7 linked regions of the Homo sapiens genome follow. The protein of the gene in region 3 interacts with the protein of the main gene of each other region in a biochemical or structural test. Each region holds a gene or a part of one and is shown on either strand. Other genes may lie near its edges. The genes, in order: MAPT, ARHGAP17, ABL1, CCND2, BCAR1, MBP and HERC1.

Evidence for each region.
Region 1: of the proteins of ABL1 (region 3) and MAPT, one has a biochemical effect on the other in vitro, tested with the Homo sapiens proteins (2 studies listed by BioGRID).
Region 2: the proteins of ABL1 (region 3) and ARHGAP17 form a complex in vitro, tested with the Homo sapiens proteins (one study listed by BioGRID).
Region 4: the proteins of ABL1 (region 3) and CCND2 form a complex in vitro, tested with the Homo sapiens proteins (one study listed by BioGRID).
Region 5: of the proteins of ABL1 (region 3) and BCAR1, one has a biochemical effect on the other in vitro, tested with the Homo sapiens proteins (one study listed by BioGRID).
Region 6: of the proteins of ABL1 (region 3) and MBP, one has a biochemical effect on the other in vitro, tested with the Homo sapiens proteins (one study listed by BioGRID).
Region 7: of the proteins of ABL1 (region 3) and HERC1, one has a biochemical effect on the other in vitro, tested with the Homo sapiens proteins (one study listed by BioGRID).

What each region holds. Positions count from the first base shown.
Region 1 is NC_000017.11:46,023,554-46,026,193, forward strand, and holds part of MAPT (microtubule-associated protein tau), read left to right. Parts: intron 1-402; coding exon 403-618; 3' UTR 619-1,563; coding exon of another isoform or gene 1,564-1,635; 3' UTR 1,636-2,640. UniProt on the Homo sapiens protein: Promotes microtubule assembly and stability, and might be involved in the establishment and maintenance of neuronal polarity.
Region 2 is NC_000016.10:25,005,370-25,008,869, reverse strand, and holds part of ARHGAP17 (rho GTPase-activating protein 17), read left to right. Parts: intron 1-3,500. UniProt on the Homo sapiens protein: Rho GTPase-activating protein involved in the maintenance of tight junction by regulating the activity of CDC42, thereby playing a central role in apical polarity of epithelial cells.
Region 3 is NC_000009.12:130,852,254-130,855,753, reverse strand, and holds part of ABL1 (tyrosine-protein kinase ABL1), read right to left. Parts: intron 1,691-3,500; coding exon 1,517-1,690; intron 954-1,516; coding exon 658-953; intron 1-657. UniProt on the Homo sapiens protein: Non-receptor tyrosine-protein kinase that plays a role in many key processes linked to cell growth and survival such as cytoskeleton remodeling in response to extracellular stimuli, cell motility and adhesion, receptor endocytosis, autophagy, DNA damage response and apoptosis.
Region 4 is NC_000012.12:4,283,762-4,287,261, reverse strand, and holds part of CCND2 (G1/S-specific cyclin-D2), read right to left. Parts: intron 1-3,500. UniProt on the Homo sapiens protein: Regulatory component of the cyclin D2-CDK4 (DC) complex that phosphorylates and inhibits members of the retinoblastoma (RB) protein family including RB1 and regulates the cell-cycle during G(1)/S transition.
Region 5 is NC_000016.10:75,234,625-75,238,124, forward strand, and holds part of BCAR1 (breast cancer anti-estrogen resistance protein 1), read right to left. Parts: exon of another isoform or gene 3,470-3,500; coding exon of another isoform or gene 3,467-3,469; intron 2,721-3,466; coding exon 2,559-2,720; intron 2,375-2,558; coding exon 2,258-2,374; coding exon of another isoform or gene 2,204-2,257; intron 1,363-2,203; coding exon 265-1,362; intron 1-264. UniProt on the Homo sapiens protein: Docking protein which plays a central coordinating role for tyrosine kinase-based signaling related to cell adhesion. Implicated in induction of cell migration and cell branching. Involved in the BCAR3-mediated inhibition of TGFB signaling.
Region 6 is NC_000018.10:76,986,284-76,989,783, forward strand, and holds part of MBP (Golli-MBP), read right to left. Parts: intron 2,630-3,500; coding exon 2,594-2,629; intron 2,245-2,593; coding exon 2,212-2,244; coding exon of another isoform or gene 1,807-2,211; exon of another isoform or gene 1,420-1,806; intron 1-1,419. UniProt on the Homo sapiens protein: The classic group of MBP isoforms (isoform 4-isoform 14) are with PLP the most abundant protein components of the myelin membrane in the CNS. They have a role in both its formation and stabilization.
Region 7 is NC_000015.10:63,638,449-63,641,948, forward strand, and holds part of HERC1 (probable E3 ubiquitin-protein ligase HERC1), read right to left. Parts: intron 3,196-3,500; coding exon 3,022-3,195; intron 1,998-3,021; coding exon 1,704-1,997; intron 329-1,703; coding exon 263-328; intron 89-262; coding exon 1-88. UniProt on the Homo sapiens protein: Involved in membrane trafficking via some guanine nucleotide exchange factor (GEF) activity and its ability to bind clathrin. Acts as a GEF for Arf and Rab, by exchanging bound GDP for free GTP.

The sequences.
Region 1 (2,640 bases), on a different chromosome or scaffold from region 3:
TCCTGGCCAGGCGCAGTGGCTCACGCCTGTAATGGCAGCACTCTGAGAGGCTGAGGCGGGCAGATTGCTTGCGTCCAGGAGTTCAAGACCAGCCTGGGCAACATAGCAAAACCCCGTTTCTATTAAAAATACAAAAAATTAGCCAGGTGTGGTGGCATGCACCTGTAATCCCAGCTACTCGGGAGGCTGAGGTGGGAGAATCACCTGAGCCTGGGAGGTCAAGGCTGCAGTGAGGTGAGATTGTGCCACCGCACTCTAGCCTGGGCGATAGAGCAAGACCCTGTCTCAAAAACAAACAAAAAACAGTCCCTGGCACTCTGGGCCAGGCCTGGCAGGGCAGTTGGCAGGGCTGGTCTTTCTCTGGCACTTCATCTCACCCTCCCTCCCTTCCTCTTCTTGCAGATTGAAACCCACAAGCTGACCTTCCGCGAGAACGCCAAAGCCAAGACAGACCACGGGGCGGAGATCGTGTACAAGTCGCCAGTGGTGTCTGGGGACACGTCTCCACGGCATCTCAGCAATGTCTCCTCCACCGGCAGCATCGACATGGTAGACTCGCCCCAGCTCGCCACGCTAGCTGACGAGGTGTCTGCCTCCCTGGCCAAGCAGGGTTTGTGATCAGGCCCCTGGGGCGGTCAATAATTGTGGAGAGGAGAGAATGAGAGAGTGTGGAAAAAAAAAGAATAATGACCCGGCCCCCGCCCTCTGCCCCCAGCTGCTCCTCGCAGTTCGGTTAATTGGTTAATCACTTAACCTGCTTTTGTCACTCGGCTTTGGCTCGGGACTTCAAAATCAGTGATGGGAGTAAGAGCAAATTTCATCTTTCCAAATTGATGGGTGGGCTAGTAATAAAATATTTAAAAAAAAACATTCAAAAACATGGCCACATCCAACATTTCCTCAGGCAATTCCTTTTGATTCTTTTTTCTTCCCCCTCCATGTAGAAGAGGGAGAAGGAGAGGCTCTGAAAGCTGCTTCTGGGGGATTTCAAGGGACTGGGGGTGCCAACCACCTCTGGCCCTGTTGTGGGGGTGTCACAGAGGCAGTGGCAGCAACAAAGGATTTGAAACTTGGTGTGTTCGTGGAGCCACAGGCAGACGATGTCAACCTTGTGTGAGTGTGACGGGGGTTGGGGTGGGGCGGGAGGCCACGGGGGAGGCCGAGGCAGGGGCTGGGCAGAGGGGAGAGGAAGCACAAGAAGTGGGAGTGGGAGAGGAAGCCACGTGCTGGAGAGTAGACATCCCCCTCCTTGCCGCTGGGAGAGCCAAGGCCTATGCCACCTGCAGCGTCTGAGCGGCCGCCTGTCCTTGGTGGCCGGGGGTGGGGGCCTGCTGTGGGTCAGTGTGCCACCCTCTGCAGGGCAGCCTGTGGGAGAAGGGACAGCGGGTAAAAAGAGAAGGCAAGCTGGCAGGAGGGTGGCACTTCGTGGATGACCTCCTTAGAAAAGACTGACCTTGATGTCTTGAGAGCGCTGGCCTCTTCCTCCCTCCCTGCAGGGTAGGGGGCCTGAGTTGAGGGGCTTCCCTCTGCTCCACAGAAACCCTGTTTTATTGAGTTCTGAAGGTTGGAACTGCTGCCATGATTTTGGCCACTTTGCAGACCTGGGACTTTAGGGCTAACCAGTTCTCTTTGTAAGGACTTGTGCCTCTTGGGAGACGTCCACCCGTTTCCAAGCCTGGGCCACTGGCATCTCTGGAGTGTGTGGGGGTCTGGGAGGCAGGTCCCGAGCCCCCTGTCCTTCCCACGGCCACTGCAGTCACCCCGTCTGCGCCGCTGTGCTGTTGTCTGCCGTGAGAGCCCAATCACTGCCTATACCCCTCATCACACGTCACAATGTCCCGAATTCCCAGCCTCACCACCCCTTCTCAGTAATGACCCTGGTTGGTTGCAGGAGGTACCTACTCCATACTGAGGGTGAAATTAAGGGAAGGCAAAGTCCAGGCACAAGAGTGGGACCCCAGCCTCTCACTCTCAGTTCCACTCATCCAACTGGGACCCTCACCACGAATCTCATGATCTGATTCGGTTCCCTGTCTCCTCCTCCCGTCACAGATGTGAGCCAGGGCACTGCTCAGCTGTGACCCTAGGTGTTTCTGCCTTGTTGACATGGAGAGAGCCCTTTCCCCTGAGAAGGCCTGGCCCCTTCCTGTGCTGAGCCCACAGCAGCAGGCTGGGTGTCTTGGTTGTCAGTGGTGGCACCAGGATGGAAGGGCAAGGCACCCAGGGCAGGCCCACAGTCCCGCTGTCCCCCACTTGCACCCTAGCTTGTAGCTGCCAACCTCCCAGACAGCCCAGCCCGCTGCTCAGCTCCACATGCATAGTATCAGCCCTCCACACCCGACAAAGGGGAACACACCCCCTTGGAAATGGTTCTTTTCCCCCAGTCCCAGCTGGAAGCCATGCTGTCTGTTCTGCTGGAGCAGCTGAACATATACATAGATGTTGCCCTGCCCTCCCCATCTGCACCCTGTTGAGTTGTAGTTGGATTTGTCTGTTTATGCTTGGATTCACCAGAGTGACTATGATAGTGAAAAGAAAAAAAAAAAAAAAAAAGGACGCATGTATCTTGAAATGCTTGTAAAGAGGTTTCTAACCCACCCTCACGAGGTGTCTCTCACCCCCACACTGGGACTCGTGTGG
Region 2 (3,500 bases), on a different chromosome or scaffold from region 3:
AAAATCCATTCTTTACTGGGGGGAAGAAATGAACTCTAAAACCATAAAAATGATGAACCAGTAGAAAATTTTCATCTGTAAATTTGAACCATAAAAGGATATGTTCATTTAGCATCATTTTTATATGTGTAAGCGGCATGTTACGCTATTATGGAATTGCCTTTGTAGCAGAGTGGACGAGGCAAAACCTTCCAAGTTTGATTATGGCCTAGGGCGCTGCAGTCAGTACGTGCACCGTGCATTTTTGTCAGACCACAGGATGTTTCACCTTTATCATTCTATTTCAGTTTCTCAAGTGTAGGTAGATGCTGTAGTAACTAGTGAAGTACAAATCCATGTAAAAATGTTAAACTCTCATCTGTTCGCTGTGTTTGTATTTTCTTAAAGGTAGGGATTAAAAGTGTAATAGGCCCACAGTCCCTTATCTGGAATCATTGGGCCAGATAAGTTTTAGAATTCAGAATTTTTCAGATTTTTCTAAAAGTAATAATATGCATATATTGTTGTTATGTAATACTTCCAGTGGGGTCTGGGACAAAATCCCATAATCAAACATTAGTATAGCAAAATATATATACATATATTCCCACTGAATGGATATGCATGAAGATTATGCATAGTTTAATATCAGTTCAGGTCAACTTTTATTGCCAAATAAGTTACAAAAAAAGATTTGTTTTTTAGAACTTTTTGGATTACAAAATGGTGATAGGGATTGTGGACTTGTCTTACTTTTAGTTATATACCTATTGAGAGTCTGTTAAATTTTTTTACTGTAAATAATATTTCCCATATTCCCAAAGGTTGGAAACCACAATCACATAAGCAGGGGTCACAAACCGAAGTGCCAGGTTGGGTAAAATAAATAAGTGAAATGGGAGGCGGGTATAGGACAGTAGGGAATGTGGGGACTGCAGTGAACTGGTGAATACATGTTCATTCAAAGGGGAGAGCTGCTCTTCAGTTCTAGCCACTTGTTGCCATGGTGAACGTGGGAGTAGTGAAGCTACATCTTCCATTTTTGATGATACTCCAGAATGCTGATTTTCATGTGAAGTTTCTTGATATTTAAATGTTGGCAACTAAAAAGAAAAAAACCCACTGTTGGCCAAAGAAAACATCTGAAAGCATTATCTGGCTGTGGGCTGCCTGCTTTCATTTGTAGTTTAGAGACTAATGCTTGTGGTATGAAAAGTTGTCAGTGAGCCGGGTGCAGTGGCCCATGCTTGTAATCTCAGCATTTTGGGAGGCTGAGGTGGGAGGATCACTTGAGACCAGGAGTTTGAGACCAGCCTGAGCAACATAGCAAGATCCTGTCTCTACACACGCAAAAAGTTTAGCCAGGCATGGTAGCATGTGCATGTAGTCCCCAGCTACTTGGGAGGCTCAGGTGGGAGGATCGCTTGAGCCTGGGAGGTCGAGGCTGCAGTGAACTGTGATCCTGCCACCGTGCTCCAGCCTGGGTGATGGAGTGAGACCCTGTCTCTAAATAAGTAATTTGTCAGTGGCATTCGTAATGAACTACTTTCTTGAGATATGGATGGGTGCATTTGCTTTATTGTTATTCATTATGCTTTACATACACACTATATGTTCTTTGCACATAAAATATTTCATAATAAAAATCTAAAGAAGTTGATAAGCACTTTATTTTAGCATTGCCTTATTTTCTAGCCATTAGGAAATTTTCATCTGTAAATTTGAAACTTTAAACTTATTTATCTTGGAAAAGGGACTGAAAGCCCCACTTCAAAAATAGGAGCCCTCTTTTTAAAAAGTAGGAGTTAAAAGAGGTTAGATTGTAATGTTCATTCCTTTCCAGGGCCATAGTGATCTGAAGTAACATTGGGTATTCACTGTTATATTGCGACAGAGAAATGTCCTCGATCTCCTTTCTTCTCAGACCGTTCCCCTGGGTGATCTCAGCCCCATAACTATCACCTCATGGTGACAGTTTTATGCCTCCAGCCCTGGGGTCTCTTTATCCCTAGAATGATGCTATCATCTCTCTCTTGAAAAATCTCTGCTGACATGGCCTGATAAAATTGAACCCATGAACTTCTTCCTCAAATTGGCTTCATTTCCCTCTATCTTCTAGTCTGTGAGTCACGAGACTTTGGCCTGCAGGGTAAATCCAGCCCACCGCTTGCTTTGTGAAAAAGTTTACTGGAACACAGCCACTCACTACAGTGGCAGGGTTGAATAGTTGCAACAGTGACCCATATGGCCTGCAACGCCTATGGTATTTATCCTCTGGCACTTCATAAGAAGCATGTGACCCCTGCCCTAGGGCATTAAATGCCCTCACACCCTCCCTAGTCACCTGTCAGTCCCATTCTTTTTCCTCCATCATCTCAGTCAGGTGAGGAGACTGGAAATTCTGCCTCTTTGATTATCTTTTTCTTTTTTTTTTTTTTTTTGAGACGGAGTCCCTCTCTGTCACTCAGTCTGGAGTGCAGTGGCATGATCTCGGCTCACTGCAACCTCTGTCTCCCGGGTTCAAGCGATTCTCCTGTCTCAGCCTCCTGAGTAGCTGGGACTACAGGCGCACACCACCATGTCCGGCTAATTTTTTTTTTTTTTTAATTTTTAGTAGAGACAGAGTTTCACCATGTTGGCCAGGCTGGTCTGGAACTGACCTTGATTATCTGTTGACTTCATCTTTGCTTCCCAGAGGCCATCCTTCCTGTTACCTTAATTAGGTGCTCATTATTTTTCACTTGGAGTCAAATTTGTCTTCCAGTTGGCTTTGCTGCCTTGAGCTGGCTTGAGCTGGATTGTATCTACAATTCCCCAACCTTCTGTTTGACATGGTCGGTCACCATTTTAATGATTATAGCTGCTCACCTCTAAATTACTTTTTCATGATGAATTCTCTAGAGGTTAGAATCACTAGATTTATAGGAAATTAATGTTTATATCATGACAGTATTGCCAGGTTGTCTCCTAAGATGATAATGCCGTCATTTAGTTTGTAGTGCAGAAAGTGATGTTGCGCAATAATGTGTGTCATTATGCATGACATGATGAATATCACATTTCACCATCACCTTAGTTGCATTAGATATTGTCCTTAAAAAATTTGTTATCTATTTAAATTTTTTCCACTAAGTTCAAAATGAATGTGTTCTTACATTTGTATTTCTTTATATGAGTTTTCTCTGTATGTGTCATTTGTTTGTCATGGAATTAACGTTTAGTTATCAGTTTCATTGCTCAGTTACCAATTTAGTTCAACAAATGTCTCTTGAGAACCTGTCAAATGATAGGGGCTGGGGTTAAAAATATAATTGATCCCTGGGGACTTGAATGTGGAGACAGAGCTACAAACAGATAATCTGAATGTAACCAGTTTTATCTATTCTAGCAGATCTTAGGTGCTGTTAATGAAATCTTAATGCCATTCTTTGATGTATTTATGTACTTTAATATAAACAAGTTAGCATTCTTGTTCATAGATATGTTCCTCAACAGATACAGTGATGAAACCTTGCACATTC
Region 3 (3,500 bases):
ATTATAGCAATACCTCAGTCAATGTTAACTCCTCCCTTCTCTTTATGGACTCTTAAGGATTATTTATATGAAGACCACAAAATCATATAGGCCACCTCCCTTACAACACCACACTTTGGGTTTGGTAAGCTGTGGGTTTGATCCCGGTTTTCACTGAAAACTGCATGCGTGTATGCACGTATGTCCACACACCTCTCCATGAATGTGTTCATCCGCAGGAAGAAGCCCACGTGCCAGGCGTCTGTGGGGGAGGGGATAGTAAAGTGGTCTTTCGCTCTAAGAAAGGTTATCTATTATTTGAATTTTTCTCGTTGGGGATGATTTCTATCATTATAAAATATTTTTTTTAAAGGAAGAATCTTATTGTAAAAAATGTGTCCAAAACCCAACAGATATTCCTCCTATTTTAAGTAACTTGCTAACAACAAAACTCTAGCAAGACAATAAGAGAATCATACCAGTCCCAGGAACTTGTAATATCACAGAACGGATCCTCAATAAAGGGTCTTCATAAGGCTAATGGAATGACTCCCACCTGAAAGATTCTTTAAACATCTTCTTGGTTGAGCTTTCTTGCAATAATTTATCAATCCGACAGCAGGACCTCTGGTTCCCCTGCCCTGGGCCCATCAGCGCCCCCTGCCAAGGGTCCCCTACCTTGCCATCAGAAGCAGTGTTGATCCTGTAATGGTACACCCTCCCTTCGTATCTCAGCGAGATGGACCTCTGGCCAGGACTGCTCTCACTCTCACGCACCAAGAAGCTGCCATTGATCCCGCTGCTCAGCAGATACTCAGCGGCATTGCGGGACACAGGCCCATGGTACCAGGAGTGTTTCTCCAGACTGTTGACTGGCGTGATGTAGTTGCTTGGGACCCAGCCTTGGCCATTTTTGGTTTGGGCTTCACACCATTCCCCATTGTGATTATAGCCTAAGACCCGGAGCTTTTCACCTGAGAAGAAAGGAACCAAATCAGACATATCAGCTTTGGAAACCAGCTTCGTTCTTTTTCATTGATTCTTGTGTAACTACTAAAAATCTCCAAATTCCTAAATACCAATTTCATTTTAACAAGTCCACATAAAGATATGCATTTATAAGTGTATGAGAATTCACGTTTACATTTGAAGCTTCCTGTTTGTACTGAACAGATAGGTAAGTGTATAGCCTCAGTTTTTATAAATCAATTATGTTTATTCAAGTGCTCTGTTCCTAATATAAGACATTTTAGGGAAATAATGCTTTTTCTTAGGGGAAAAATTGCGTTCAGTATTTTGTCCAGCTGTCCTTTTCAGTATAAAAAATAGGGCAAGTTCTGTTTTTGCCCAGGGCTATTGTACAAGAACTCCTCTAAGGAGAGTCGACTCCCTTAGAAACATGCAGTTGTTGTTTTGGATATCCCTGCAGTCCAGATTTCAAAGCTGCTCCTTTAACGAGCAAAGGGTGGTAGGTCAAACCGCAATTCCCAGATTTCTATCTCCTGCAACCACCACTAGCTGCCCACAACCCTTTTACCTTTAGTTATGCTTAGAGTGTTATCTCCACTGGCCACAAAATCATACAGTGCAACGAAAAGGTTGGGGTCATTTTCACTGGGTCCAGCGAGAAGGTTTTCCTTGGAGTTCCAACGAGCGGCTTCACTCAGACCCTGAGGCTCAAAGTCAGATGCTACTGGCCGCTGAAGGGCTTCTGGAAGAGAAAGGGGGGAACAGAAAAAAGAAAAAGGAAGAGAAAATTGGGAGAAAAAATTAGTTTTATTCTCAGAAGCAAAAATATTTGTGTTTCCAACATTACACATTCCTATTTCATTTCTTAACATCTGTACATACTATTATCATTAAGGTGGTTTTTAAAAAACTCTTCCTTTACTAAATCTTGTGGAAATTAAGTATTTTCACTCCAAGGTGGTAATTATTGTTCCCCAATAGTTTGAGCTTCTAAAATTCATGGATTCAATATGACTTTAGTCAAATTAAAACAGTCTATCCACATATGCATTTGCCTTTGCTTAAAATATGCAATGAAAATTTCTTGCTTTAGCCGGGCATGGTGGCTCACGCCCGTAATCCCAGCACTTTGGGAGGCCAAGGTGGGTGGATCACCTGAGTTCAGGAGTTTGAGACCAACTTGACCAACATGGTGAAACCCTGTCTCCATTAGACATACAAAAATTAGCCGGGCATGGTGACGCACACCTGTAGTCCCAGCTACTCAGGAGGCTGAGGCAGGAGAATCGCTTGAACCCAGGAGGTGGAGGTCTCAGTGAGCAGAGATTGCGCCACTGCACTCCAGCCTGGGTAACGAGAAACTCCGTGTCAAAAAAAAAAGCCGGGGGTGGATCATGAGGTCAGGAGTTCAAGACCAACCTGACCAACACAGTGAAATCCTGTCTTTACTACAAATACAAAAATCAGCCGGGCATGGTGGCAGGTGCCTGTAGTCCCAGCTACTTGGGAGGCTGAGGCAGGAGAATTGCTTGAACCTGGGAGGCGGAGGTTGCAGTGAGCCAAGATCGTGCCACTGTACTCCAGCCTGGGTGACAGAGTGAGACTCCATCTCAAAAAAAAAAAAAAAAAAAAAAAGAAAAGTCAAATCGTACAGAAGGGCTTAAAATGAAAGACAAATACTTTCTATCCCAGTCCTCTCCGCTCCCAGAGGCAGAGCTGTTTTTTTGGTGATCACCCCCACCTCTCTAAGTACCAGCTAGATCACTGGAGTCCTATTCTCCGTAACAGACGCACACCTTCACTGCCTGTTCTTCCAACTAGGACAGCGTCTCTGAGGACTTACTTCACAAGACAAGGCTATTAACACACCCCACCCGTCCTTCCAGCTTTCTTGCCCCCACGACCACCCTCAAATATGTTCTTCTGTAAATTTTTTTTTTTAACCTTGTGGCAATTATTATTACAGAATAGAAAAAACTGTTACTAAACTTCCATGTTTTGTCTGAAACAGATTCTAAAAGTTGGAAATCAATCAACAGCTCTTAAATTAGAAAATGTGTGAATATTATTCATTACAGGGTCAAATAGGTTATTTGTTCCTGAAGTTTCTTCTTGCCTTTTTTTTTTGAACAGGGCTCAAACGCTCCAGAATTTCTTTGTGATAAAGACAACGTGTAGACGAGTTCTTGCAAACCAGCAAATCAAATAACCTCAAGTAGATCTTACAGTTGAAGAACATTGTGGAGTGAAATCCAAAATACTCATTTAAGGAACTACAATTTAAAAATCACTAACTGGGCCAGGCACAGTAGCTCATGCCTGTAACCCTAGAACATTGGGAGGCTGAGGCAGGCAGATTGCCTGAGCCTGAGCTCAGGAGTTCAAAACCAACCTGGGCAACACGGTGAAACCCCGTCACTACTAAAATAGAAAAAACTAGCCGGGCATGGTGGCGGGCGCCTGTAGTTCCAGCTACTAGTCCCAGCTACTCAGGAGGCTGAGGTAGGAGAATCGCTTGAGTCTGGGAGGCGGAGGTTGCAGTGAGCTGAGAT
Region 4 (3,500 bases), on a different chromosome or scaffold from region 3:
TGAGCCAAGCACAGCCCTCCCCTCCCATCATGAACGCAGAGCAAACCTGGCCATCTGCCTGTCTCCTTGGCTTTTTCTCCATTGCCCTCTCACCATCTCCACCTCTTGAGGGACGTATATAATGGTGCTGCGCCCACGCCTGCTGTCCACCCGCCCCTCCTACGCCTTCTCTGTCGCCATGAACAGTGTGACAAAGCCAGCCTCCCTGCCTCTTGCTCTGCTGTAGGTCTCTTCCACATGGGTCACAGGAGAGTGTTTCTCTGCCCAATAACCTCGTTAGCTCCCCCCTGTGACATTCATAACACAAGCGGGGCAGCCGGCCCATGGCCCTGGGCCCACAAAGGCCCGGGTGGGAGCATCTGCCAGGGAAGAGGCAGGCAAGTATCCCCGGCCCTCCCTTCCCTCTGCCATAGGCCTCAGACCGGGAAGCACACCTCACACATGCCCATCTCTGCTGTCCCACTGCTAGCAAAACCAACTCTTATTATTGGCATACGAATGAACTTCTGGAAGCCAGCAGGCATAGGGGGAACAGGTGCACCGGTTGCACAGGGAGACTCTACCTCCCTTTTTGTTTTACTAAGAAGATTTTCAGGGGAGTCCTCTTGGGGACACTGTCCAATCCCACAGAATTGGGGAGCACTATGTGCATGAACTTGACTGCCTCTCAGCAGCTCAGAGTGGCACCAAAGGAGCAGTGTGTTCCCACAGCCAGAGGAGAGACGCCGCTGGAGACGAGGACGGCGGCCGTGCTGCCCTCTGTTGCCCGCTACACAGAAGACGAGCATCTTCCTCGGGATCCCTGAGCATGCCCCACCTCTCCTCCAGGTTAGTCAAATACTGAGGCAACATCAGCCCTCCAGCTAGGTCCAGACGTGGGACTGTGGGCAAGTCACTTCCTCTTTCCAAGGGCTTGGTTTCCCATTTGTCTAATAACGGGTTGGGTGAGATAAGTGTTTTTCTAACTTCTAGCTGCAACTCATTAATGGGTCATGAAATGCATTTGTGGGTCGTGACCAGCACTTTCTGTTGTTGTTCTCCTTTAACCAAATAGAGTAGGATAGAAAGTATCAGGCTCACCGTATGTCGTTAAGAGTAAATATTGTTCGGAGAAACTTTTGTATCAGTTTGATATACTTGTACAAGTATCCTGAGTTGTGTTATAAAATGTGTTTCTTCCTACATGGCTTAGGTCAAGAGTTTAAAGATAGTAAGCAGGATAACCTCCCAGGTGCCTTACAGGTCTACTTTGCTCTTACTTGAGGATCTGGAATGGGAATGACTCCCAAGGAGAAGAACAATGAGGAGACAATAGAATGGATCACGGTGTCTACCAGCCGGCAAATTCACAAAGCAGCCCTCTCCACAGAGCGGCGCTACTTCCCCGTGGCACCAGGGCTGCCCCAGGACCACTCTCAAGGACATCCCCCTCTCTACTGGTAGGGGATACTGAACAGAGAGAAAAACAAAAAAATCAAACATCATTTCATCTGTGCACTAGCTTCCTAGCTGTAATTAGCCAACCCCCACCCTCAACTGTGGAAAGCTCCACCTACCCAATGCAGCCATTCCTGGAAACCATCAGCTTTGTCGCTATGACAGGATGGAGAAATGGTCACAATATCCACTCAGAAGAAGGAAGCGGAAAACCAAATTGCATGCATGCATGCGACGATGAAGATTACAACCATGGGTAAATACATACATATATGCCTATGGATGAACTGGAAGGATGCACGGAAAATAAAAGCTGTTCTGTTAGGTGGGAGAAACACAGATGAGTTTGTAAAATTTGTACGTAATATTATTTTAACAAATAAAAACCAGGTACAAATTTCTCAGCAGTCTGTTAAGTCTCTTGATCAAAAATGCCAACAAGCAATATGCTGGTGCAGAAGGCACGCTCAGGGGTGAGGGTGTGCCCTCGCCATCGTTAATTGCCCACCTGGAGAGGTGAGATGCTGGTGACTTCCTGAGATCCTTCCTCCTGCAGCAGAGAGAGAGGCAATGAACCGATCAGCGATCCATTCTGATCGACTCATGACAATGTGCTCCTCCCTGTTCCAGGCAGCATGGAGGACTCCCCCCAAAACGTACAATATTCAGACTTCTTAAGGCTGGGCATCAATGCATTAGATAGTAGAGGATGGTGTGCTATAATGGCTAGGTCTGTACTACTATATGGATAACTTCTGAAGAAACTTCTCAAAGAAAGGGGGCTCTTGAAGGCTGGGCGCAGTGGCTCACAGTGTAATCCTAGCACTTTGGGAGGCCGAGGTGGGCAGATGACCTGAGGTCCGAAGTTCGAGACCAGTCTGGCCAACACGGTGAAACCCTGTCTGTACTAAAAATACAAAAATTAGCCAGGCATGGTGGCACGCGCCTGTAATCCCAGCTATTCTGGAGGCTTGGGCAAGAGAATCACTTGAACCCGGGAGTTGGAGGTTGCAGTGAGCAGAGATTGTGCCATGCACTCCAGCCTGGGTGACAGAGCAAGACTGTCTCAAAAAAAAAAAAGAAAAAGAAAAGAAAAAAAAAAAGAAAGGAGGCTCTTGAGTGAAGAGGAGCATTTGAGACACTTCTCAGAAGACTCTTCAGGGAGATGGGAAGGATTTGGAGAGTAGACTCAAAAAGCTCCAAGCTGGAACGTGGAGTGCACGGAGCTTGGGCAGCCTCCACTCCTGCCCCAGTCCCCACCAGACCCAGGAGGGCCTTTCTCCAGGTTGCTGCATCTGGAGATCTGAAGAGAGCAGGAGCAGCCACACGCCTTGCCATGGGCAACAGAGGCCGTCCCAGGGCCTAGGGCTCCAGCTCCCCTCCAACCAAAGCAGACCTCTGGAGAACACAGCTCACTGGTTCAGAGTATTAGCTCTGGAATCAGAAGGAGGTGGAATCTCCATCCCACCACCTACCAAGTGTGTGAAGATGAGCAAGTTACCTGACCTCTCTGAGTTTTCATTTTCTGATCTGCAAATAATGACAACAGCAATACCCACGTTGTAGTGCTGTTCTGAGGATTCACTTAAAATAATCCTTGTAAAAGCACAGTGCCTGGTTCAAGGTAAGCAATGAATGTCAGCCAGCATCCTCCCCAACCTGCCCCTCCTCTGCTCTCACTCCTAGTACTTCCTGCAGGACTGTGGTGGGGAGTTCCGACTGGAGATGCTCTCCAGCGTCTGGAGGGATGAGGAGAAAGGCGCCCAGCATCCCTGGATTGCAGGCAGATGCAGGGAGCAGGCCAAGCAGGCCAGGAAGAATGAGGGCTCTGTGCTTCCTGGAGAATCTGTCACTATCCAGTTGTGTATGTGTCCCAGAAATGACATCATCGAGTCCCCAAAGCCTCCTGCTGCTTTGCAGAACTGGGAGAAAGTGCAGCCCCACAGGGGAATGAAAAGAACCCCATGAACACTCAGCGAATGGAAGAGAGAAGTTGGCAACTCTAACCCAGCACATTCCACAATTCATTGAGATGCAGTTCACCCGAGCCAAGGAACGATGCC
Region 5 (3,500 bases), on a different chromosome or scaffold from region 3:
CATTTCTGCAGATCTGTCTCCCCACACAGAACAGCAGAGTCACCGCTGCTGGTCACCAGAGATACCAGCCCGAGGGACTCAACGAAGGGCTCGATGACATGGCCACCCTAGCACATGGGGCCAATGTGGGGTGAGGGAGGTCAAAGTGAGAGGAGGGTGCAGGGCCTTGCCAGGGACCAGGCCCCAGCTGAGAACAAATCTCCCCCTAAGCACAGGAGCCCAGCGTGGCAGAAGAGGAGCCGGGGCTGGGCAGGCGGCACCCACCTGTAGGTGGACGTAGTCATAGTCCTCCATCCAGCCCCCCTCGCTGTTCTCGTACTGCCCATCTGGCGAGTCCTGGGAGGTGAACTTAGGGGGTGAGGGCAGGGGTCGTGACTGGATGCTGCTGGTCTTGTCAGTGGGGTTGGGGTGCAGGGTGCCACCCCCCTCAGGCCCCGGGGCAGTGGCCTTGGTCCGTCTGAAGAGCAGTGAGGCATTGCCGTGCAGGAAGGAGGCCAGCTGCTTGGCGTCCTCGGGCACAGCCCGCGAGCAGGCCACCAGCCGGTCCAGGTCCTCAAGGGTGGCTCCAGAGCCTCCCCGGCCAGCGTCGAGGGCCTGACCATGTGCCACCAGCGTCTGGTGCACGTCCTCCATCTTCTGCAGCTGCCGGCTAAGCTTGGCATGCAGGGCACGGTCAGATGTGTGGGCAGCATTGCCCACCGCGCTGCGGGCAAACTCCAACAGCTCGTGGACGGCACTCTGGACAGCGGCCACAGCAGCCTGCAGGTCCTGCACCAGCGGCTCCTGTGGCTCAGAGGGGCTACGCCAGCTCCCAGTCGCACCGGCGCTGCCTGCCAGGTCCAGAAGGTGGGCAACGGTGGCGCTCACACCCTGCTGCAGCCGTGCCAGGGCCTCCACAGCAACTTCCAGCTCCAGGGGTTCCCGGCCCGGCCCTGCCACCTCCAAGGAGGACGCAGACTGGCTGCTGCGTGTGCTGCCGGTGCTGGAGGCCGACAGGCGCTTGCCCTCTGCCGGGGCTTCACGTTCAGCTGGGGGAGGCACCGCATACACACCACTGTCGACCACGCCACCATCAGCCACCTCAGGAGGAAGCACCCGTTCACGGGGCACATCGTACAGGGTGCCCGGGCCAGGCCGCCGCAAGCCAGGGGGCACGTCGTAGAGGTCAGGAGCCGGGGGCGGCACGTCATACACGTCCTCGGCCGGCGGGGAGTCTGGAGGGGGCGCAGCCAGTACCAGTGGGGTGCGGGCCGGGTCAAAGGGCTTGGCCTTGGCGAAGGCGGGGGGCACATCGTAGGTCTCCTCACGCAGCAGTGGGCCATCGGGCACATCCTTGCTCACCGATGGAGGAACGTCGTAGACCTGGGGGACAAGCGGTGGTCAAGACTGTCCATCTGTCCATCTGCCCACCCCAGGGACTGGGGGCAGCACCCAGCCACACACACACACACACGTACACACATACAGACACACACACAGAGGCACGCGCACACACACAGGCACACATACAAATGCAGAGGCACGCACACAGGCACACACACGCGCACACACACTCGCAGCCCTAGCACACACATCCTTCACAATTCCTATCCATGACAGCTCTGGGACGAGCCGGCTCTGGAGCCAGGTGACCACCCCTGTGCCTGAAGGTGGGAGAGCTTCCTCCCAAAGAATTGCATGTGTTAATTCACATAATTGTGTCACTGCAGACACTCACTGAAAGGTTAGCTGTGATACTGCCACTGCCACCACCATCATATCATGATTTCATCACCATCACCGCCGCTGCCACCTCATCACCACCATCACTGTTACCACCCAGCACCACCACCACGTGTGAACTTTCTACTCTGCAGCAGGTGTGCGACTGAGCTCTGTGTGTATTATCAGGGGACCAAATTCTGGTTTGCCCAGGACAGTGCTGGTTTGTCCCTGATGCCCCCACATAATTACTAGTCCCCCCTTCACTCTTGGAAGTATCCCAGGTGAGATGACACATCCCGTGGTCACCTTGCGGATACCCTCTCAGGAGCTCATGGAGAAGGCCTCGCAACAGGCGGTTCTGCCGACAAAGAACCTGAGGCTCAGAAGACAGCTTGATTTCCTCATCTGTCAACCATCCAGAACCAGGGTCTGGAGCCAGTCTCTTCCTGCCCGCCACCCCCAGCCCTGCAGACACTGGTCAGCACCCCTGTGCACACACCCAGACACCCCACAGCCTCAGCCTGGCCCTGGCATTGCCCTGGCATTTGCTCACTGCGTGGTGGTTGGACGGTGGCAGGCCCTTCTCCACACTGGGGGGCACGTCATACACCTCCAGCAACGGGTCTCGGCCATTGGGACCCTTGACAGCCATGGGGGGTGTGTCATACACCTGGGGCAGAAACAGTGCAGGGTTAACGGCGCCAGGGCCACTTGGGGGAATAGGAAAGGTGGGAACCCCGCAGCACCGTCCCCAGGCCTGGCCGGGGCTGAGAAGATGCAGCTCTCGGCCCAGGGCCAAGCAGAGGCACAGACTTGCCGCCCTGCCCTCCCACCGCTGCGCACCCCACACCTACCTCCTGGCCATACTGGCTGGGAAGCAGCCCCCGAACCGGGGGCACATCATAGATGTCCTGTGGCCCCGGGGCCAGCAGGTGTCGCGGGATGTCGTACTCGTCCTGCTCCGGCTGGGCGGCCTCGTATACATAGCCCTGCCCCACGCGGGTGGGCACCACCACCTGGGGGCAGAGAGCCGACTTCACTGCTGCCCTCAAACCAGCCCTTAGGGAGGCTCCACTCACACCTGGGAGCCACGTCCTTTTAGGAGGTGGGCAGGGCACACCAGGTGGAAGGGACGGGGCTCCCCAAGGATGCCAGTTCTCACCCCCTCTGCACCATCTGACCTTCCTCTAGCAGAACGCAGTGCCAGGTACGGCAAGAACTCTGGGTTTTATTCAGAGCTGCCTCGTCCTGGGCCAGGACACCAACGTCTCTACAGCCTGCTGACCCAGAAGGCTCCACAGAGGAGCATGGGTATGAGCTGATGACACCGGTGGGGTGAGGGGCTGAGGCCCTGGCTCTGGAGGGCACTACCCACAGGCAAGGAACCCCCCGTTACTGGGGCGCCTAGCCCCACAGGACAAGAGGCCACGTCGGAGGCCTGGGAGTCTGCTGCCCACACCACCTAGCTGTAGCCTCCTCAGAAGGGTTGGCCCAGCAGGGGACTGCATCCGGCCCAGGACCAGATAGAGCCTAGCACCCCCTGCCCCACAGCACAGCATGGGGAGACTCTGGAGGACAGGGCCAGAGGGGCAGGTTGGGTGTGTGCTGGGGGGCGCAGCAGCTGGGACCAAGGCCCCCTCCCTGCCGCGCCTGCCCCGGGGGAGCTGCCTGCAGCAGGTAAGATCCCCAGCGACCTGAAAGGATGAGGCCTAGTGGGGGAAGTGGGTCCAGGGCCAGCCCTCCCCTCCCCAGGTGCTCTTACCATGACCCAGAGCCCAGGGAAGCCAAGGCCCGCA
Region 6 (3,500 bases), on a different chromosome or scaffold from region 3:
CCAGACTGTCCCTCCTCTATCAGCCTGCAGCCTTTCTTCCATTTCATTAAAGTGTTTTAGGACAGGGAGGACCTTGACCAACCTAGCCCATCTCTTATTTAGAGGTGAGGAAGATGACACCAGAGGCCTCAAGGCTTCCAGAGCACCTGGCTGCACCCTCAGCCTCTGCTGGGGGCTTCCCACCATACAAGCTACTTGCACAGTTTTCTTTTCATTCAGCCTGTGCTTGGGAGTGAGCATGGCCACTCAGAACCAGGCAGCTGCTTTCGTGTGAACAGTTGATTCGGGGGCTATCCAGTGAGGTGAGGGACGGGATGTGTGGCAAGAAGGTCTAAGCACTGCACACGAGGGGACAGCCAGCCTCGCTCTTGCGTCCTAGAGGTTTCCAGGTTCATGCTCACTCCCTGATGGCAGAGGGCAGGTTGCCAGCCTGGCTCTACATGGCAGAAAGCCACTTCCCTGCAAGCGTTAAGTCCTTCTGTCTTACTCTATTGCTTTTCTCCAAAAATAAAGCATTTTTGAGAGCTAAATCCGGGGATTGACTTTCAGATTAACAATCTGCGCGGCCTTTCCTCCTTTCCAATCCTTAGTCATGTTTATCTTTGGGGAACCTAGAATGTACCAGGAAACACACAACACAGCTTAGAAAGAGAAAGTGGGGGCTCTCTGGAACTCCAGACAAGGAGAGAGTCCTGCGGCTCTGGGAAACAGACAAGCAGACAAAATGCAGAGAAGGATTTTGCTTTGGAAAAAAGAGAAATTCAACAGACATTAGTAGGACCCAAAAGGGAGAGATGCAGGGAGGAATGCAAGGGTCTTTCTTGTTAGCTGCTGGGGCAGAACGGCCTGTGTGCAACCCCCCATCGCTCCACATTCAGGGAGGATCCGGCACGACGGCCCCAAAGTCCACTCCTAGAAAATTAAGAGCAGATAAAGCAGTAGCTAAAATAAGATTTCTGGGTCAAAAATGAATTTCATTCTTCTATCATCTTTGTCTCCTGCTGGCATAGAAAATAAAAAATTAATTGTGAGTACTAGTCCATGTACATTTGCTACATGATTGTCATCGTTTTGCAAATTCATTAGGTCAGAAAAAGCAAGTCAAATATGCATTAATGGAAAACGTTTCGGTAAATATCTTAGTTCATAATTCAGTGTAATCATGTGTGGGACTGATCTGGGATCCTCATGGTCTCTCAAGTACCCTGCCCCTTCCTCCCTCTCTTCCTTCCTCTTCCCCACCTTCTGTTTTCTTTCCCTGTTCTTTCTTCCTGTTCTTTCTCCTTGTTGTTTTTCTTTTAAAATGTATTCATTCATTTATATGATGCTTATTAATTGAGCAGAAAGTGTAGGTAGGCTCTGTTCTAGCGTATGAGAGCATTGCAGTTTCGGAGACAGACACAACCTATCTACAATACGTTGGTGGTTATTCCTCCATTTTATTCTAAAATTATAACTTTTATACAGTAAGAATCATATCTGGTATTTGCTAGTAACTAAAGTCTGTAAGTTTGGTTAGAATATAATGATTGGCATTTTAATTTGGCTCAGACACCAAATTTTTTCACTAGAAAGTTCAAATTGGCCATTTTAAACCTTCCTTGAAAGTTTGCTTTCAGTATTAACCAGCCTAAAATTCCTAAGGAAGATTTTCTGGATGGCTTGATATCTATGTTTTAATTATTATTTAAACACATACAAAACAAAAATCTTTGGATTAATGAGGTTATTATAAATCGAGCAACTCTATTTAGCCTCTTTTTCTGTTCATCAGCAGAATCATTTTCCCAGTGTCAGCATCTGGGGTCACTGAGACGGGCCAGCCAGTCCCACTTCCACATGCGGGTTCCTGGGGCTTCTCGCACTGGTTGTGTTGGAGGAAGTTAAACATTTTCTCGGACGTGGTGTTGCTCCCTCCCTGGGAGGGAGACCAGTCACGTCGCCTGGGAACCCTCTGGGAGAAGAGGATCTGGCCTTGCAGGGCTGGGTCCCCGGCACAGAAGCAAGAGACCAGACCTTCCGGAAGGGAAGACCACGTTTCATTTCCCCAGTGGAAGACAAGGCGGCCCGATCCCAGCTGTGGGCAGAGAGGTCTCGAGAGGAGAGAAAAGGAGGCCAGGAAGCAACCGAAACAGAGCAGAACACAAAAGTTGCGGGGCTGTGAGGACTGGGACGGAAGAGGAAGCCGATGGAAGTGCGTTCGTCACCTACCCAGCTAAATCTGCTCAGGGACAGTCCTCTCCCCTGCATGAGGAAGACAGAGAAATAATGACATGGTGGTCAGTGAAGGGAAAGTCCTTTCAATCAACAGGAAACACAGTCAAAGCACAGTGGAGCTGAGGTGGTAAAAACAGGTTCCACCCGGAGCTCCGAGGGGGGCCGCAGGCTCAGGGCCACAGCGGCTGTGCAGGTGCGGGAGGGACAGGAGGGGTGCATGGATCTGCCGACCTGTTCTACTTGGGAGCTGCCTGGCAACACGTTTTGGGATGGATTCTGGTAGCTCGGAGCCTAACTCTCTCTTTGGTACATTATGGGATTTTAGAGAAGGTCTATCAGAAAAGTGATGATCAATCAAAACATTCCAAGGTCTTACCTTTCCCTGCGACGGGGGTGGTGTGCGAGGCGTCACCTGGAAAGACACAGAGAACCGTGGGCTGCACTGGGAGCCCTGTGCCGCCGTCCATTTCCTAACGGGCTCCTGCCTGCTGAGGGTGGCTAGCATCCATCAGCTGCCAGAAGCACCCGGGTGCCCAGCCTCCCCACTTCTGTCCTAGTTGGTGAAGAAGTATAGACCTGAGATTGAAAATATTCTAGATGATGCAGATCTCCCAGAGCACTCAGGAAGTGTTTCAGAGGATGGAAAACACCTCCCAGAGGCTCCGTAGCTGGGGAATGGGCCCATCTTGGGACACTGAGGGAGGCGGCGGACTTTGCTTCACCGTGAGCCCTTTCCGGGGCTAGGAGTAGCGGGCCCTCTGACATTCAGAGCTTCCAAGGGGATGTCCCCAGGTCTGCAGCTCCTAAGTGCACTTATCGAATACGAGCATAAAATGTCTGCTGCACTGAGATCTTGGAATTAGAAGCCTGTGGTTTTGTTCTTGTTTTTAATCGTCTTCGTTTTGCATGGCACTTTTCGGTTTACAGAAAAACTGTGCAGAAATTAGTTTCCACATACCCCGAACAGTTTCCCTTATTAGCAACACTGCCTTAGGGCTCTCTCGGTGCTGTGCACGCTGTGGGTTTGGACAAGTGCGTGGTCTTCAGTCACCATGGCAGCCTCGACAGAGCGGTTTCGCTGCCCGAAAAATGCCCTAAAAATGCCCTGTGCTCTCTCTGCTGCCCCCTCCGCTCCCAGCCCATGGCAAGCACTCTCCATAGGTTGCAAAGCCTGTGTTTTTAGGCTAAGCGTTACATGGGAGCCTAATCTCAAGAGAAGTGAGCTCTCTGGAGAACGCACGGAGCGCACGGTGCAATCCGTGGCAGATACAGTCGGGAAGCGC
Region 7 (3,500 bases), on a different chromosome or scaffold from region 3:
CCATTACATTTCTTCCAGCTTCTGCCAGCTGTCCATGCCTACCAGCACCCCATAAGTAGACATCACATTTACCTCCCAGGTGCCAGTCCTAGAAAACCACAATCATCTCAAAATTAGAGTCATCCATTCACTCAAACAGCCATGTACTACGTACCAAGTGTGTGCCAGCCTGTATGGGAGACACCAGGGCACAAACACACAAGCATTTAGAATCAAAACATTGACTGAGAACCATCATACAGTTATCTTCATCTTTACTGACCTCAGGTCTGGAAGTTGCCCAAGACATAATTTGTTCATCCATGCCGTTAATCCATTTACTGTTATCCTGAAAAACAGGGGGTACATAATGATCAATTCTGCTTAGGCAAGATGCACCTGCTCTTAACCACAAAGTCCTCTTCTAATCATTAAGTCTTATTTCCAAAAAAGAATATGGTAATATTATGATAAATTAAGAGCAGTTTTATAATTATGTCAAACTTGATTTTATGCACTGTCAGTATTTCCCTTTATTATAAACACTTTCACTATCACTATCACTATGGCATTGGTGATTCAAAGCTAGCCATGTGTTTTCTGAACACCCACAGGTACAAGGTCATGTGGAGGACCCCACACCCCTGTAAACTCTTTGTGTAGCTGTGGGCAAATTACTTCATCTTTCTGGGCTTCAGCTTCCTCATCTACAAAATTACAGAGTTGGGCCAAATGGGCTTAGAAGGACATTTTCTGATTAAAATATTGTATACTTTTGTGCCACGTGACATTTCAGTCAACAACAAACTGCATGTGTGAAGATGGTCTCTTAAGATTATAAAACCTTATTTTTATTATATCTTCTATGTTTACATACACAAATACTTATCACTGTTACAAATGCCTAGAGCATTGAATACAGTCATATTCTGTACAGGTTTGTAGCCTAGGAGTAATCAGACTATACCGTATAGTCTTGTTGCAAGTAGGCTGTATCATCTAGGTTTGTGTAAGTACTATACACTCTATGATATTCCCAGCGTCAAGATTGCCTAACAATGCATTTCTCAGAACATATCCCCATCATTAAGTGATGCATAGCTACAGTTACATAATTTTACTTAATTTATATTTGTCTGTTTCATATTGTATCAATGTTTATCCAAATGTTTGTATACATAAATCTTAAGTATACAAAGAGGTTGTTAGATCATGTGCTGTCCTGTAGTCTAAACAGGTATTTTATCTATGTCACAGTTTCTAGAGTAGACACTCTCAAATACAAACAGAATGAAATGACAATTAGAATGCTCTTCTATATTTTATTTGATGCTAATTAAAGACATGATTGAAATGCCAAATAAATTAGAATCTATATGTGGCATATAACCCACAAGATGACCAGGAAAAGATGCTAAGATATATACAACTAAAGCACTAACAAAGTACCTATGGACAAAAGAAAATGAGAAAATATGGGACTATGTCATTGAGAGGTGGCAGGTTTACAAGAGTTCAACAGTGCTTACATTATCAATTCCTGTCACTATGGAGGCCTGCCATCAGATTGAAAGTGACTATCTGAAAGAAAAATATTTTCCATTTCTCTTAAGGGTATCCTTCTAGCCATGCATACCAGCAAAGACTTATTAGGGGTCTGCTACATGCCCAATACCCATGATAAAATCTCAGCTGCAAATAATAGCAGCTCACAGTACATTTACCATTAGAAATACAAGTTCATCCTCTGGAACAGGTTCTAGATCTGGAACGGTAAAAGATTCTGGAAACTGGGCTCCATTGGTCAGGGCTTCGGCAGCTTTTATAGTGGTTGAGAAACATTCTAACCAGGCCCATTCATTTGGATTCCAGGATGCAGGGTCAGGGAGACAGTTCTGGTGGTGTGGTGGCACTGGAGGGTTACACAACAGCTGATCCAGATGAAGTCCCACAGCAAGGGAAGCCAAGCATTGCATATAGGGGCTATGAACAAGTTGGTCACCACAAACCACATGAGGCTAAAACAAAATACAAGGATATAATATGTCAAAGAGTTTGTGCCAAATATTCTAAATTAACCTACCGTAGTCTGAAAGTCTGGAATCATATTTTTCAAGTTTACTGTTTAAGCTTTTTGCTAGGAAATAATTTTAGATTTAGAGTGAGTTGTACAGATAGTACCGAGGATTTCTGTATACCCTTCGCCCAACTTTATCCAATGTTAACATCTTATACAACCCTGGCACATTTATCAAAACTAACAAACTAACATTGGTACAATACTAACTAAACCACAGAACTTTATTTGGTTTTCCTCAGTTTTCCCATTAATACTCCTTTTCTGCTCCAGGATCCAATCTAAGCTATCACACTGCATATAGTACATTTTCATCATGGTTTTTCTTGATTGGAAAAAAAAGCAGGTAACTATTTAACCACAGAGATCTGCTCTTCTCACTTTCCTCCTTTATAAGAGAATCCTGGTAGCCATCAAAGGAAAAGCAAAAAGCTGGAAGACAGGCTACTTTAGGATCACTGTCTGGACAAGTTCAAACGCTGCAATTCCTCATTCCAGTATTTAATGACCCTACTCAATTCAACATAGCTCTTCCACTAAATTTTCCACAAAGATTTATCTAATAAGTGGAGACGATATTCAGTCTGATACCCGCATCCATCCCTATCCCTCAACTTTGGAATGGCCAAGCCATATAAAAATAGATATATGTGTGGGTCAGAAAAGGGAAGATATTCTGCTGCATAGGTATTTTAAGAAGCTTTGGAGTGAATAAATAATCTGAAAAGCAGTAATACAAACTTGGTGTTTGTTTCTTTATTTTACTCTGGTGAAAATAAAGCAAGAATAGGCTTAGGGTTGCTGAACAACTCTTTTAGGCATGACTTACCTTCATTTGATTCTGCCCAAATAGCCCCACTTATTATCCTCAGACCTCATGCTTTTAAGGGATAAGTTCAAGGCTATAATCACATTCCAAAGCACCAGGTATCTGTGTATCTCTAGGAGTGAGTGTAATGAGTTACCTTTTCATAGGCATACTGCTCCTGAAGCATCATGGGGAGCCGCTCCAAAAATGCTCTCATGCAGGGAGCCATGTTCAATCCCAGAACACCCTGCTGTTTCAATGCTGTCCTACAGGTTGCCAAAACATGATTGGCAGCTGCCCATTCTGCTGTACAATTCACGACCAAAACATCCTGGTTGAAAATAAATCATGCCACATAATAAATTTGTTTAAATAAAAAATAATGCTATCACCATTTAATCTGCGAAATTCCTTCTAGTAACTGGGACATCTTTGCTTTTTGGATATTTTATATCCAAAAAGGCTATGCTTTTAATGCCTATGGAACTTCAAAATATCCTAAATTTTGTCTAAGTAAAAAATAATGAGAAATAATAAAATTTGTGAACTACCTCTGATTAGCTGGTACTTTTTAAGGAAAAAATGTCAATAATTAACTATTTCTTCAGAACCTGCAGAATAAGGCATCTACTATAT